Regions from separate parts of the Homo sapiens genome. Here region 2 is linked to region 1. The links come from fine-mapping of genetic effects on gene expression. Tissue or cell type: gastroesophageal junction. Region 1 holds a variant in brackets; the other region holds the start of a gene. All regions are shown on one strand. Distances are from middle to middle.

The links. PIP is the estimated chance that this variant, and not a neighbour inherited with it, causes the effect.
Region 2: ETHE1 starts here. The variant in region 1 is fine-mapped to the expression of ETHE1 in gastroesophageal junction (GTEx, PIP above 0.99). The same link has a PIP of 0.9 or more in breast, esophagus muscle, lung, nasal epithelium and skeletal muscle.

What each region holds. Positions count from the first base shown.
Region 1 is chr19:43,498,307-43,501,064 of GRCh38, reverse strand. All of the region lies in intron 4 of PHLDB3 (pleckstrin homology like domain family B member 3), which reads left to right. Among named protein-coding and RNA genes, the nearest start is that of PHLDB3, 5.1 kb to the left of the region's middle. RefSeq lists an enhancer at 1,674-1,968. The variant G/A (reference allele first, on the strand shown) is at 1,086.
Region 2 is chr19:43,525,809-43,528,432 of GRCh38, reverse strand. ETHE1 (ETHE1 persulfide dioxygenase) reads left to right here and starts at 1,232. Exons shown (of 7, transcript NM_014297.5): 1 at 1,232-1,336; 2 at 1,774-1,918; 3 at 2,084-2,232. The coding sequence starts at 1,256. RefSeq lists silencers at 1,081-1,270, 2,621-2,624 and enhancers at 1,881-2,060, 1,576-2,080, 2,081-2,586.

The DNA of each region.
Region 1 (2,758 bases):
CAATTTGTTCTCGTCCCCAGTTTTAAAAGCCAATCCCAGACATCATATGGTCTGTACATATGTTTAGAGTGTATCATTGACAGATAAGAAATCCTTTTAGGCTGGGCCAAGTGGCTCACACCTGTAATCCCAGTACTTGCGGGGTGGGGGGGGGGTACGGGGGGCGGGGCAAAGTGGGAGGATCGCTTGAGGCCAAGACTATGAGACCAGCCTGGCAATATTATAATAAGACACCGTTTCTGTGAAAAATAAAAATACAAAAATTAACCAGGCATGGTGGCATGTGCCTGTGGCCTCAGACTCAGAAGAGTGAGGTGGGAGGATCAATTGAGCCCAGAAGGTAGAGGCTGCAGTGAGCTGTGATTATAACATTGCACTCCAACCTGGGCGATAGAGCAAGACCCTGTCTCAAAAATAAAAAATTAATAAGTTCTTAGTATTGTCTTATTTCTGGTTAGTTTTTGTGTTTCCCAGACAGTCTCAAAATGCCAGTTAACAGGTGGCTTGTTTGAATGAAGTCCCCAAAGTTCAGTGTGATTGGCTGATACGTCTTGCCCATTGTTTTATCTCTGGTGGTTCCTACCCGCTGTGTCTTCCCCATACTGTTTATTGGAAAAATCCAGTCTTCTGTCCTATAGGCAGAGCATGGCTGATCGCATGCCTGTGGTGCCCTTGAACATGCCTCTGTTTCTGCAAGTGGGTGTTGGTTAGAGGGAGAGGTTTGATCGTATTCAGAAGTGCTTTAGTGCTTCCTGAGCCAGTGTTGGGAACCTCATCTCTGGTTGTCCCGACCTAATAAGATCACCCTAGTCTCTTTTTTTTTGCGAGACACAGTTTCGCTCTTGTTGCCCAGGCTGGAGTGCAATGGCGTGATCTTGGCTCACCGTAACCTCTGCCTCCCAGGTTCAAGCGATTCTCCTGTCTTAGCCTCCCCAGTAGCTGGGATTACAGGCATGCACCACCATGCCCGGGTAATTTTGTATTTTCAGTAGAGATGGGGTTTCTCCATGCTGGTCAGGCTGGTCTCGAACTCCTGACCTCAGGTGATCTGCCCGCCTTGGCCTCCCAAAGTGCTGGGATTACAG[G/A]TATGAGCCACCGCAGTTCGAGGCCAGCCTGGCCAACATGATGAAACCCCATCTCTACTAAAAATACAAAAAATTAGCTGGGCGTGGTGGCAGGCACCAGTAATCCCAGCTATTCGGGAGGCTGAGGCAGGAGAATTGCTTGAATCCGGGAGGTGGAGGTTGCAGCTCCCAGGAGCCAAGATCACACCACTGCACTCCAGCCTGGGCAACGGGAGCAGAACTCCATCTCAAAAAAAAGAATCTTTTATCTGAAGATTGTAACATCCATCAGTGGTCATTGCTTGGGTCAGTTACCATTATAGGTTGGAAAATGGTGACTTGTGATTTTGTCAGTTTTTTTCTTTGCAAGTGTCGTGTATGTTGGAATTTTATGAGGCTGGGTCCTAGGCCCTCATTTATCCTCAAAGATCACATATTTCTCCCAGGCCCTCTCTCCTGAGACAGAAATGTGCTCTTCTTCCTAGGGTACTGGCTACTTCATACTCCCTTCTCACCCAGATCCAGAAATCTCGGTCGCAGCCCCTTCTCCCTCTGTCCCAGGAGTCCAGACCCCCAGCTCCTCCTCCCTCAAACCCAGAAGTCCAGACCCCCAGATCCTCCTTCCTTAGATCCAGGAATCCAGGCCCCAGCCCCTCCTCCCTCTGACCCAGGAGTCTGGCTGACCTCAGCAACTCCCTTCTCCACACTGTTTGTCTTGCTGTCCCTTTGGTCACCAGGCCAGAGTCCTGGACTTTGCCCTGTACACTTCCCTGTCTCTCACCTCCAAGCCCGTCAACCACCATGTCCTATCCTTTCTGCTTCCTGATCCTCTCTGTCTAGTCCATCTATTTTTCAGCCCCACCGCCCAGGCCCCAGCTTAGGTCTCACCCTCATTGCTTGGAGGACTCCCGAGGCAGCTGCTCTCCACCCCTGTAACCCATCTCCCAGAGGGATGATTCCTAGCTCCTACCCCATCCTTTCAGTCCTTCTGAGGCTCCCCATATCCCCAGGTTGACCAAACCCCCCGTGAGCTGGACGAGCTGGCCTTCCCACTGTCCTCTCCCACCACGTTCTTCCCACCACCACATCCTCTTCCACCCTGGCTGGAGTTTGTCCCCCAGACTTCTTGTACTTTTCAACTTTCATGCATTTGTGCCAAGCCGCTTCCTCTGCCCAAAATGCTCTTCTAGCTCCTTTTATTTTCCCAGATCCAAATGCTCCCTGATTGTTTTGTTTTGTTTTGATTTTGAGACAGGGTCTCACTGTCGCCCAGGCTGGAGTGCAGTAGTGCAATCACTGCAGCCTCAACCTCTGGCTGACATTGTTCTTCATTCTGGGTTCCCACAGTCTCTGGATTTTACTGCCCTGATCTTTCCAACTGGCTGTGTTCCCACTTGGAGGACAGGGCCCAGACACAATCCACTTCTGCATCCACCGTATCACATAACATGAATATGTTTTGCATTCATTAATTTTCTTTCTTCTTTCCTTCCTTCCATCATTCCTTCCTTCCTTCCTTTTTGTTTCTCTTTCTCCTCCTTTCCTTTTCTTTCTTTTTCTTTCTCTTCCCTCCCTCCCTCTTTTCTTTCTCTCTCTCCTTCCTTCGTTCCTTCCCTCTTTCTCTCTTTCTTTCTTTTCTGTCTTTTCTCCTTTCCTTCCCTTTCGAGACAGTGTCTCCCTCTGTCACCCAGACT
Region 2 (2,624 bases), 27 kb before region 1:
TGAGAGTGGGATGTCCTATTCTCACTACTGCTACGATTACAAAGAGCAGACTTTCTGACAGCTCATGACTTGAGACTACAGTTTTTCAGCCCCAGGTCCTTGGTGTAAATGAACACAAGCTCTTTTCAGAGGTTCACACCCCAACAGAAGATGAATAATCCCCAATCTGATTATTCAAGAGATAATGCAAAATTATCTTTTTTTTTTTTTTTAAGATTTCTTCCTGGAAAGAGAGAAACATTCCTGATAAAATGCTTATGCAATTTCTGGATGAACTTTAATGGGATCAAGTGTTGTTCTGGTAACCAGGCACCCACTCAAAAGTCCCTCAAGATATTAATGACCTGGAACCGAACGAATATCTTTTTTTTTTGAGACAGAGTCTCCCTCTGTCGCCCAGGCTGGAGTGCAGTGGCGTCATCTCTACTCACTGCAACCTCTGCCTCCCGGAACCGAACATCTTTTTCTAACCATGACTATCCTACCACCTGCTAGAAAACGGCCCCACGGGACGCGGTGGCTCACGTCTGTAATCCCAGCACTTTGGGAGGACAAGGTGGGAGGAACGCTTGAGCTCAGGAGTTCGAGATCAGCCTGGGCAACATAGTGAGAACTCCGTCTCTGCAAAAAACAAATTTTATATACATGTATGTGTGTGTGTGTGTGTATATATATATATGTATATAAATATATATATAGATATAAATATATATATATAAAATGTCGGGTGTGGTGGCAACGTGCCATAGTCCCAGCTACTCGGGAGGCTGAGGTTGGAGGATCGCTTGAACCCGGGAGTTTAAGGCTGTAGTAAGCTGAGATCGAGTCACTGCACTCAAGCCTGCGTGACAGAGCGAGACTCTGTCTCAAAATAAAACAAAAGAAAAAGGAAAAAAAACGGCCCCGAGGCTATGAGTGTACTGGGGCCTCTCCCTGGGTTTCTACTTCTCTCCCTATCTCTGTTCCTACATGAGTATGTCTGTGTGTCTCTGAGCGTCTGTCCCTCGCACTTTGAGTGTCTCCCTGTTCTCTGTTTTTTCTGGGTCTCAAAGCGTCCAGGCATTGCACTCTGGCTTTCCTCGGTCTCGCCCTCGCCCCAGTCCCGCTCGGCGGTCCCCCGCCCTCTGCCCCAGGCGTCCGTGGCCCCTTTAAGGCGTGCTCCGCCCCCGCCCCGCCCTTCCCGGGGTCAGTGCCGTAGCGCCCGGCTCCTGCAGGCGCTCGGCCTCCGCTCATTCCTGACCCCGCAGTGGGCGCGATGGCGGAGGCTGTACTGAGGGTCGCCCGGCGGCAGCTGAGCCAGCGCGGCGGGTCTGGAGCCCCCATCCTCCTGCGGCAGGTGCGGGTGGCTGGACCTAGGAGGGGACTGCTGGGCACTAGGCGGCAGCAAGGACGGAACTCCGGGGTCTCTTAATAGGGAGAGATCCGGGGGGACCCACGCCTGCATCTTGCGGAAAGCGGGGTGGAGGTTTAGGGCTGGACTCTTGGGTCCTTTAAAGGTGAGTGGTCTGGGGGCCTCTGGGCTTGGGGCCAGACCCCTGGGTCCTCTATGAAAGAACGTGCTGGGGACCCTGATTTTGGGATGTTAGGAAGTTGGAACTCTTTTGTTCTGATAGGGGAAGGTAGTGGGGCTCCGGACTCCCGACTCCCGGGGAAAGAGTGGGCTGGGGTTTCTGCTTCTGGATCTTAGGAAGAGGATAGGGTCAGTCTGGACTACTTGGCCTCCAGTGGGTGGAAGTCCGGTTCTGCGCCCTCACCTGGGTCCCCCGTTCCCAGATGTTCGAGCCTGTGAGCTGCACCTTCACGTACCTGCTGGGTGACAGAGAGTCCCGGGAGGCCGTTCTGATCGACCCAGTCCTGGAAACAGCGCCTCGGGATGCCCAGCTGATCAAGGAGCTGGGGCTGCGGCTGCTCTATGCTGGTCAGTCCGGGGACCAAACTCATGGATCCCAGCGGGGCTGGGCTGCAGCGTCAGTGGAATGGGAAGCTGGGGCCCAGAACTCCTGAGTCTGAGGGAGAAGGATCTGGGCTGGGACTCCCAGGTCCTTTCTGTACCCTCCGGACCTGTCCCTCCTCTCTCTCCCAGTGAATACCCACTGCCACGCGGACCACATTACAGGCTCGGGGCTGCTCCGTTCCCTCCTCCCTGGCTGCCAGTCTGTCATCTCCCGCCTTAGTGGGGCCCAGGCTGACTTACACATTGAGGATGGAGACTCCATCCGCTTCGGGCGCTTCGTGAGTTGGGTGCTGGGTCCCCAAGAGGGTGGTGGCCTGGACTTCTTAAACTTAAGGGAAGAGGGGACTGGGGGCCTGGGATCCTGAGTCCTTGGGGAGGAGGGACCTCAGGACCTGGGTTTCTGACCCCTGAGCTCATATTTCTGGGAGGGGGGCACCATAAACCCAGGTGGGGCACTGGGGCAAGAGGCTCTGGGCAGGTGGGGCACTGGCGGAACTCCTAAGTCAACAGCATTTAAGGAGTTTCCTTCCTAAAGCTTAGGGGCAGCCCTTTGGCCTGGCATGCATCTCCATAAAAGTTGATTAGGGGCTGGAATTCTGAGGGCAGGGCTGAGAAGGAAAGAGACCCAGTCCTGTCTTGCGGAAACCTCCGTTTGAGGAAGGAGCATCTG